3 linked regions of the Homo sapiens genome follow. The protein of the gene in region 2 purifies or fractionates together with the protein of the main gene of each other region. This does not show direct contact. Each region holds a gene or a part of one and is shown on either strand. Other genes may lie near its edges. The genes, in order: AMPD2, ARL6 and BBS4.

Evidence for each region.
Region 1: the proteins of ARL6 (region 2) and AMPD2 purify together in Homo sapiens (affinity purification with mass spectrometry; one large-scale study listed by BioGRID and IntAct). This does not show direct contact.
Region 3: the proteins of ARL6 (region 2) and BBS4 purify together in Homo sapiens (co-immunoprecipitation; one study listed by IntAct). This does not show direct contact.

What each region holds. Positions count from the first base shown.
Region 1 is NC_000001.11:109,626,181-109,629,836, reverse strand, and holds part of AMPD2 (AMP deaminase 2), read right to left. Parts: coding exon 3,609-3,656; intron 3,519-3,608; coding exon 3,410-3,518; intron 3,112-3,409; coding exon 2,925-3,111; intron 2,663-2,924; coding exon 2,521-2,662; intron 2,409-2,520; coding exon 2,319-2,408; intron 2,064-2,318; coding exon 1,934-2,063; intron 1,755-1,933; coding exon 1,560-1,754; intron 1,474-1,559; coding exon 1,342-1,473; intron 1,195-1,341; coding exon 1,031-1,194; intron 729-1,030; coding exon 602-728; intron 511-601; coding exon 347-510; intron 42-346; coding exon 1-41. UniProt on the Homo sapiens protein: AMP deaminase plays a critical role in energy metabolism. Catalyzes the deamination of AMP to IMP and plays an important role in the purine nucleotide cycle.
Region 2 is NC_000003.12:97,798,630-97,801,771, reverse strand, and holds the end of ARL6 (ADP-ribosylation factor-like protein 6), read right to left. Parts: 3' UTR 543-3,142; downstream 1-542. UniProt on the Homo sapiens protein: Involved in membrane protein trafficking at the base of the ciliary organelle. Mediates recruitment onto plasma membrane of the BBSome complex which would constitute a coat complex required for sorting of specific membrane proteins to the primary cilia.
Region 3 is NC_000015.10:72,710,118-72,713,773, reverse strand, and holds part of BBS4 (BBSome complex member BBS4), read right to left. Parts: intron 1,531-3,656; coding exon 1,467-1,530; intron 1-1,466.

The sequences.
Region 1 (3,656 bases), on a different chromosome or scaffold from region 2:
CACAGTGTGGCCTCAGCACAAACGTGTGGAAGCCCCTCTGCCTGGGGGACATGAAGACAGTGTCAGCTCCTGAGCCTGGGATCACCTGGGCTCACCGGAGCCCCTGACCCCCACCCAGCACGCATATGTCCTCCAGCCAATAACTATGCAGGCCTGGGATAAGGGGGACAGGGGTAGATTACTGGCTGTGAGGGGTGACAGATGTAGCTCCAAGGGCAGAGAAAGAACCCATCCAGTCCAGGCAACAGGTGGGTCAGAGGTCTAGTGGCCCTGGCCCAAGGTGCCAAGAGTGAGGTTTGTTGGGCGAGAGATGGCATAGCAAGCAGACACAGGGTGGTGCAGGCACCTGCGCAGGTGGTTCAACATGGCCATGTTGGCAAAGGTGTAGTACAGGTAGTAGGCATAGGGTGGGTTGTCCTCCTCCACCCACGCCTCAGGCAGGGGGCTCTCCAGGTTGAAGACATGGTTTTCAGGCTTGGACTCATCATCCACGCTGTCAAAACCATCCACCTAATACAGAACCCTGGGGTCAGAACCAGAGCTGCAGCTGGATGCGAAGCCGGCTGCCCTCCCCATACCCAGCTCTGCGCTGCCTGCTCACGTGCTCTAAGAAGAGATGCAGTTCCGGGTGGCTGGCAGGGTGCACAGTGGCCTCGAACAGTGGCAGGAAGATGTTCTCCAGCATCTCCTGGAAGTTGGCCAGCTGGCCCTTGGTACGGTACACATCACTGCAGGTGAGACAACATGCAGGTATGTGCAAGTCAGGGCCAGTGGGAGGAAACCCAGCGGTCCAGCAAGGGTCAGAGCTTGGCCCAAGAGCGCAGGGGCGCATCTGAACCATATTGGGAAAGCAAGGATACCCAGGTGGGCCAGGCTGGACAGACCATGGATGGGACCAGGAAGCCCTTCCTTGCACTCAGAGGGGTTGGCAGGGACAAGGGAGGCTCAGCCATCCTAGGAGGGCAGGAGGCAGGCCCTGACCCCTTGAATATGACCCCGCAGGTTCCCCTCCCACTCCAGGGACACTCACAAGAGGCGGGGCACCTGCACCAGCCAGCGCACGTTGGGGGAGTGCACGCGGTGCATGACGGCCCAGCGCGCCAGCTTGTCCCACTCATCCCTCGAGCGCCCGTAAATGGAGAGCCGCAGCTCTGCATTCTGGTATTTGCTCTCCTCCAGGTCTGACATCACCTCCTAGACATGAGGTGAGCTGAGTCAGACATGAGGTGAGCTGAGTCAGAGCTCTTCAGGGGGTCATCTGCCTACCCTCCTTGAGTCTCACCCCCTAAAAGCCCCCAGATCCTCAGGCTCGAGGCTTGGCAGGGAAGGCTGCCTCCTTACCTTGATGATGTGAGCAAAGTACTTCCCAGATACCCTGTTGTCCGTCTTGATGAAGATCTCTCGGAGGACGGACTCCCCAATAGGGTTGTATTTGGCATTAAACTTGTCAAAGCGATGGAAAGTGTTCCTGTCCTGGGGGACATGGGAAGGCTCAGGTCACCCGTGACTCCTGGTCCCCTGACTGACTCAGTCCCACAGCCCACGCCACTGGCACAGACCGCATGCACATCCAGCGTGTCCACACTCAGGTCGTAGGCCGTGAGATTCATGCTCTCAAAGACCTCCCGCAGCGTCTGTTCACGGCCCTGCTCCACGTGCACGATCTCCTCCAGGTGCCGCTTCATTGCCCGCTTGATGAAGCGCAGCAGATGCTTCTGGTTCATGCAGGACGAGGCATGGATGTGGGTGTCCACCTGGAATGGAACAGGGCACTGCTGATCCACCAGAGGCCAGGAAGGTCTGGGGCCTGGGGCAGTGCAATGGGAAAGGACCCTCTGTACTGGATGCTGTGTGGGGGGCCTGGCCCTTGAAGGGGAGGCTGGGCAGAGGTGTGGGATGAGGACATGGAGACGGCCACGGGGTGAGGGCCCACCTTGCGGATGTTGTAGAAATCTCGGTGTGGCACTTTCTTCTGGGCGGCCAGCTCCTTCATCTCATTGAGTAGCACATGCATCTGGAACTTGGAGCTCAGGTACTGCAGCCGGCGGTAGCAGAATGACTTTCTGGGCATGAGGAGAACAAGGCAGGGACTTAGGCCCTGAAGGGAGGCACCTGGGGAGGGCTTGGGTAGCAGATCAGAGGGAGCAGGTGGGAGGGTAAGGATGGAGGCTGCCAAGAGGGAAGTAGACTGCGGGGAAGTCGAGGGCTCAGCAACTAGGAAGGGCAAGACACCAGGTGATGGGAGTCTGGGGCAGAACTGGGGCTGGAGAATCTGGGCTGGGAGGGGAGCTAAGTGTCTGGGATGGCAGGGGACTCACATGGGGCCATTGATAATCAGGGCCATCAGCACATTGACGTCAGCCACAAATTCCTGCAGGTCAGGGTATGGCAGCTCCACCTCTGAGCAACTGGCATGGAGGGGAGCTTGGGTGAGGAGAGCAAGCCGAGCCCTGTGGCCTCTCCCAAGCCAACGCAACCTCCCACGCTGCATCCCCCCAACATGCACCACACCCCTCTTACTGCTCGTCGGGTTCCCTGCGGGTGTAGACGTGCACCACACCCCGCACCATGCGCAGACCCAAGCCCAGGTCCCCAGGCATGGTGCTTGGCTCACAGTGCTCATACGGGTGCTGCTCCAGCGCAGGGGGGTGCACCGGGGCATCTGCAGGGGTGAGGAGGGTAAAGTCAGAGCAGGGCTCTTCCAAGCCACCCACTGCCCAACCCAAAGGCCCCACAGAGGGCAAGAGATGTTGAAGACCCAGTAGGTCAGACAGCTCCTGCCCAACCTCCACCCCTGTACCCCAAGAGGTTGGAATGAGCCTGGGTTGTAGGGAGAGGCAGGCAGGGCAGAGGTGCCCAGGCACCAGGCTGAGAAGCCCAGGAGGCTAGGGCACATGGCATGGGGCAGAGATGGGGAGTCCCACCAGCAGACACAGGGGTGTCGGGGCCCTGTTCATAGGTCCGGGTCTCCAGAGGCTTTTCAGCCAGCTGCTGCAGGTAGCGGCGGGTGGTGGGGCAGAAGCTCTGCAGGGACAGGGCCATGTACTTCTCCCGGATGAAGAGCGCCCGCACCACACTCTTGGCTGCATCCAGCAGGTCTGTGAACGGCACCTGGAGATGAGGATATGCGATCACTCTCCTCAGTCTTGGACTCAGAGACCTCCTCCCTAAGGCCTTATCTTAGAACCCAAACTATCCCCACCTCCCACAGGCCCTGACCCCCAGGAACACTCAGATCACCCTGGTCCAGCACATCAAGTGGCTCCTAGGCAGCCCCTCTGCCCCTCCGCCCCTCCAGCTGCTGGAAAGAGAAACGCCCTTTCCAGCCCCCACCCCCAGCTCTCCAGGCTGGGGGAACCCACTAAGACATAGGTGATGGCGACTCACCCAACATACACCCCATACTTACCCCACACTTCTCCTCCCCAGAGATGGTGACCCGCTGAAACTCCCGTTCCAGCACATCACGCTCCCGCAGGCTCCGGTCACCCTGCCCCTCACCCTGTTCCTTGTAGAGCCTGCAGGGGGTGCATTCAAGGGAGGGGTTTAGAGCCGGCAGAAGGGCAGGCTGCAGCTCCGCATCCCCTGTGCCCCTCTGCCCTCCTCACTGTAGGTCCGAGTCACTGTCCGTCTTCAGGAAATCTTGCTTGGCCCGA
Region 2 (3,142 bases):
ACCTGCACGTTGTGCACATGTACCCTAGAACTTAAAAGTATAATAATTTAAAAAAAGTAAAATAAACATTAAAGGCAGTACAAAAATGAGTTAGCAGTTTACTGACACTTGATCTATATAATAGAGATAATACCTCACAGGGTTCTTATGACAATTAAATGAATATATGTAAAGTGCTTACAAAGTATGGGCACATTGTAAAAGCTATGTTTATCATTACTACTATATTTCTAATCAAATTTTATTTTCAAAATATCTAGTATTCCTGGGTGACTTTTAGCATTACTTGGTGATTTGAAATTTGGAGACAGATTTTATCTTTCTTGGTTTATTCTAAATTGCCAGAAAAGCAGTTTAACATGGTATGCCGATGAAGCTTCTAAATCTGGCATTGAAATCAAGTGATTGGAAGAAAGAGCCATAAAGGTTCTGAGGCAGGCGAAGCTGAGCAGGAGCATCCATACGGAGAAAGATGAAAATGTAATAACTAAGTAACCTGAAACATTCAATTAAACACAATAACCATTTCTTAATCACTGTAGTATTTCTCTCTAGTCGCAGACGTACACAAACCTATTTATTTAGGTGACCTTGTAATACCAGTCATTTATTTTCATGAACAAAGGAAATAATCAGAAAGCAGAAAATAGGTACAAACTCAGTTACAATGCAATAGTATTTTAATGCACATGCACCAGAGTTATAAGCAAGATGAATTTGCCTTAAGTATTGCAACTGACTGAATGTTTGTGTTCTCCCAAAATTTCTATGTTGAAATTCTAACCCCCTATGTGATGACATGTGATGATATTAGGAGGTGGGGTCTTTGGGAGGAGCCATGTGAAGATGTAATGGGATTCATGCTCTTATCAAACAGACTCCAGAGAGTTCTCTTGTCCTCTTTTGGCCATGTGAGGATACAAGAAGATGGCAGTCTGCAACCAAGACGGCTCTCACCAGAACCCAACCATGCTGGTAATCTGATCTCAGACTTCCAGCTCCAGAGCTGTAAGAAATAAATTTCTGTCGTTTATAAGCCACCCAGTCTATGGTACTTTGTTATAGCAACCTGAAATGAATAAGACAAGTATTATCAAGAGTAACTGCACATATTTATGGAAATCACAACATGATATAAAAAAATTACAAAGAAAAAATATCTTAAGGAGACAATTTGTAACTTTTTCGCAGAGAGCTTAGAAATAAAAAACAAACATATAAAACCCAGCTCTTTTGTGATTTATAAAGCACAGGCTGAATAGGGCCATATACAAATATTTAAATATTTAACATACAAGAGGATAAGTTTCAAACATTTTTACAAGGTGTTATATTCAAATACAGAGCTTAATGAATTAAACTCTGTAACACACTGATGTCTAGACATGAAAGAAAACTTGCTTCAGGTTTAATAAAATACATTTTAATTGTATAATATGCTAAATACAAATGCAATAATCTCAGCTTATTCACACTTATATGACATCCTGTGACTACACTGTTGCCCAACTTCTACATAATCTTTACATGAAAATGTGGAGTAGGGATGGATGTTTATAGACTAAAAACTAGATTTTGGAGATCATGAAAACAAAGAAAAAGGGTACTTCTCCTTCTTCTAAATATTTGCATAGGTATGAGCTACTGTAGTTTGTGGAATACCAAATAATTTAATGTCAAAATAGTTTTAAGGACTTTTATCAAAGTCATTTGTATCCAGAGTTTAAAATTTGAGTAGTGTTAATAGCTTTAAAAGAAAAAAAAAGAAAACAAAAAAAGCAAAGAGTAGTCTCTAGTCTCTGACCTTCCCTCTACCATCCCTGTCCTGGTTGCTGTCCCAAGTAAGAGCCTTTTCTATCATTTTAATTGTTATTCTGGCAGATATATCTGTATTTCTAATATCTATCATACTCTTGAATCATCTGTCTTAAAACAGACTGCTTGGTACTGAATCCTAGTACCAGACTTACCAGCTTTTTGAACTTTGGCAAATTACATAACATTTTAACGCCTCAGTTTACTGATCTATAAAATGGAAATAATAAAACCTGCCACATAGGCTTATTGGGAGGATTAAATGTTGAAAATTCTGTATGTGTAATACCTGCTTATAATATAATGATCATATAGTAGTAACTATTATTAATTTTATTACTACCTTATGGTAAGTGAGTGAGGATTTGAATTCTCAATCAATTCTTTCTCCATCCTAAAATAGTTGTAGCATATCAGTTTTTTAAAAAATTACATTCATTGTTTCCATCCTTATGTCCTTCCTATATCTGCAGCAACTTTAGATTAATGAGATTTTCATTTTGTATCCTCTAAAACAATTTACAAGAGAGATGGTAAACTAGCTAAGATGCTGAGCCATTGGAATTTTCTGGGTAACTTTCAATTTGCCAAATGCCAAATCACTGCTATTTCTGGACTATAAGAAACTGGAATATAGAACTTTTATTGTAGCTTTATGTGCTTTTATTAAAATCTTTGTGAAACATGTACCACTACTGCAGTTACTATAACATCTTTATTACTCACTTACTTTTGCCTTCTATTTTCATCATTTTCAAAGCTAAGCATACTTGAGATGGTATATATTGTATATTACAGTTTTTCTTTATATGCAGTGTTTATCAGGATCAACAATATTGCTCTATATACTGTTGCTCAGTGATTAAAATGAAGGTTTCTATTTAGAGTTCACAATTATAAGTGTTCTCTAATTTGTGAGAACTAATAATTTGTGTGCCTGAGATATGTCTAAAATTCTAAAGAACATTTATGTAGCAGTTATGTTCATGAAAAAGTTAAAAGTCACAATTTATTTTAACAAAGTGCTATGGTAAATTGGAGGCATTTAAAAGTGAAAAACAAGATGTCAGTAATGATTACTGAACAGTCAAATATTAATTTACTTTATACCTCTTAATCTGAAGATGCAATATTTTCATTCAGCCAATGAAATAAAATTAGATACTATCCATGGAAAGGTTCTCAAATTATCCCTCATTAAATTTTAAGTTCTCTGAAGATAAGGATATGTCTTATTTACCTCGTAACATCATTGCCTAGGACTATGTCTGACTAGTTGGTGTAGAGATGTTCAACATACACTGAATAAATAAATTCAGCTTAACTT
Region 3 (3,656 bases), on a different chromosome or scaffold from region 2:
TCCTATTGCCCAGTGACGTCATAGCAATCAAAACAGTGCAATGCATTACTTACCTATCTGTAGTGATGCTGGTATAAACAAACCTACTGTGCTGCCAGTCACATAGAAGTACAGCATATACAATTACATATATATAGAACTTAATACTTGATAATAAATGACTACATTACTGGTTTATGTATTTACTACGCTATACATTTTAATCTTTATTTTAGAGTGTACTCCTTCCACTTACTAAAAAAAAGAATAACTGCCTCAGGCAGATCCTTCAGGAGGTATTCCAGAAGGTATTCCTATTGTTATAGGAGATGACAGCTCCATGTATGTTATTGCCACTGAAGACCTTCCATAAGGAGGTGGAAGACAGTGATATTTATAATCTTGACTCAGTGTAGGCCTAGACCAGTGCGTGCGTGCGTGTGCGTGTGTGTGTGTGTGTGTGTGTGTGTGTGTGTGTGTCACAAAGACCTTAGATGGGTCACAAAGCTCTGAATGCCAAAAAAGACAGCAAGGACACATTCCACATGTTAGTACCACCACTGTAGTAGTGTGTGTATCGTAGTTTTTAACAAAAAAGTTTAAAAGTAAAAAAATAAAAAGTTTTAAGAATAGCATAAAGGGCCAGGTGTCGTAGCTCATGCCTATAATCCCAGCACTTTGAGAGGCTGAGGCAGGAGAACTGCTTGAGCCCAGGAGTTCAAGACCAGCCTGGGCAACAAAGTGAGACTCTGTCTCTCTACCAAAAAAAAAAAAGAAAGAAAAAGAAAAAAGCTTATAGAATAAGGACCTAAAGAAACTATTTTTGTACAAATGTACAATGTTGTTGTGTGTTTTAAGTATTACCCCAAAAGAGCCAAAAAGTTTTAAAGTTTATAAAGTAAAAAGTTATAGTAAGCTAAAGTTAATTTATCATTGTAGAAAAAATATTTTTAAATAAATTTAGTGTAGGCTAAGTGTACAGTGTTTATAAAGTCTACATTAGTATACAACATAAAGTCTACATTAGTATACAATAATGTCCTAGACCTTCACATTCACTCACCACTAACTCACCCAGAGCAACTTCCAGTCCATCCATGGTAAGTACTCTATACAGGTATACTATTTTTTATCTTTTATACCATATTTTTACAGTACCTTTTCTATGTTTAGATACACTTACCACTGTTTTACAACTGCCTACAGTATTCGGTATAACACCTGCTCATACAGGTTTGTAGCCTGGGAGCAACAGACTATATCATGTGTATAGTACACTATATCATCCATCTATGTTTGTGTAAGTACACTCCATGTAATGTTCACACAATGACAAAATTGCCTAACAACACATTTCTTAGAACATATCTCCATTGTTAAGTGGTGCATGACTGTACTTGAACTTGTTTCTTCAATTGCCTGATCTTTTTCAAGAACCTAGGAAAAGTGTATTTCTCTAGCAAGAAGACAAGAAGTATGTGTCTTACCTTGGACATAGATAGCATATTCACACAATCCCTGAGTCTCTTGAAGCTGTTCTTTGATAACAGCCTGAAAGAGGGAGAAAAATGCTTCTGAGCAGTGGTTAAGTTTCTTCAGGTGTCTTTAAGAAAAAGTGGACATGGACAGGCCAGGTGCGGTGGCTCATGCTTGTAATCCCAAAACTTTGGGAGACCAAGGCAGGCAGATTATGAGGTCAGGAGTTCAAGATCAGCCTAACCAATATGGTGAAACCCCATCTCTACTAAAAATACAAAAATTAGCCGGGCAGTAGTGGTGCGTGTCTGTAATCCCAGCTACTCAGGAGGCTGAGGAAGGAGAATCGCTTGAACCCAGGAGGCGGAGGTTGCAGTGAGCCAAGATAGCGCCACTGCACTCCAGCCTGGGCAACAGAGTGAGACTCTGTCTGAAAAAAAAAAGAAAACAAATAGTAATGAAAAAGCAGACGTGGACAAGAATCATATGTAAAAAAACCTAGAGTATTAATAATGCCTAGTAAAGTATTAGTTCATTCAGTTTCTTAAAATTTCAACTCCCTTGTTGTGATTACTTCTTCTAGAACAGGGATTTGCAAACTACAGGGCTTACAGGCCCTGTATATTTTTGTACAGCTCTCAAGCTAACAGTGGTTTTTTTATTTCTAAAGGGTTATAAAAAATAAGATAACAAATATGATGTAGAGACTGTATGTGGCCTACAAACCCTAAAATATTGTTGGCCCATTACAGAAAAAGTTTGCCAACCCCTGTCTAAAATCTAACTAGGCAAGCTAAGAAAAGTGTGATAAGATTTCCAAGTATTATCACAGATGAAAAAGAAAGAGAACCTTTCAAGATTCATACTGGTGGCCAGGCGCGGTGGCTCACGCATGTAATCCCAGCACTTTGGGTGGCCGAAGCGGGCAGATCACCTGAGGTCGGGAGTTTGAGACCAGCCTGACCAACATGGAAAAACCCCATCTCTACTAAAAACACAAAAAATTAGCCAGGCGTGGTGGCACATGCCTGTAATCCCAGCTACTCAGGAGGCTGAGGCAGGACAATCGCTTGAACCCAGGAGGCGGAGGTTGTGGTGAGCCGAGGTCACGCCATTGCACTCCACCCTTGGCGACAAGAGCAAAACTCCATCTCAAAAAAAAAAAGATTCATACTGGTATCTGCCTTCGGATCAGCGGTGTCAAAAAAAACTGGTATGGGCCGGGTGCGGTGGCTCACGCCTGTAATCCCAGCACTTTGGGAGGCTGAGGCAGGTGGATTACGAGGTCAGCAGTTTGAGACCAGCCTGACCAACATGGTGAAACTCCACCTCTACTAGAAATACAAAAAAAAAAAAAAAAATTAGCTGGGCATGGTGGCGGGCACCTGTAATCCCAGCGACTTGGGAGGCTGAGGCAGGAGAATTGCTTGAAACTGGAAAGCGGGGGTTGCAGTGAGCCGAGATTGCGCCACTGCACTCTAGCCTGGGCAATAAGAGCAAAACTCCACTTAAAAAAAGAAAAAAAAAAACTGGTATGAATCTTTGTCATACCAGTATGAATTAGTTCTGTGCATTGCCATAGGTATAAATGCCATGGGTATAAATTAAAAACCTTAGATGGGTCACAAAGCTCTGGATACCAAAAAAGATGACACCAAGGATACATTCTGCATGTTAGTACTACCACTGTCTGCCTGCAAGTTTGTAACACATATGGTATGTCACCAAAGATACAGAGAAAGGGAAATACAAATGGTTTTTAAATATACACATGATGATCAACCTTGCAGTAAGAGAGAAATTAAAAAATAAAACTCAGGGCTGGGCACGGTGGCTCACGCCTGTAATCCCAGCACTTTGGGAGGCCAAGGCGGGCAGATCACAAGGTCAGGAGTTCGAGACCAGCCTGGCCAATATGGTGAAACCCCATCTCTACTAAAAATACAAAAAATTAGCTGGGCATGGTGACACTCATCTGTAGTCCCATCTACTGGGGAGGCTGAGGCAGAAGAATTGCTTGAACCTGGGAGACAAAGGCTGCAATGAGCCAAGATCATGCCACTGCACTCCAGCCTAGGTGACAGTGAGACTCCATCTCAAAAAAAAAAAAAAAAAAAAAAAAACTCGACAAAATACCATTTTTCATCTATCCAAAGATAAAAAAGTTAATATGCTGAGTTGAACATCTGCCTCCACCAGAA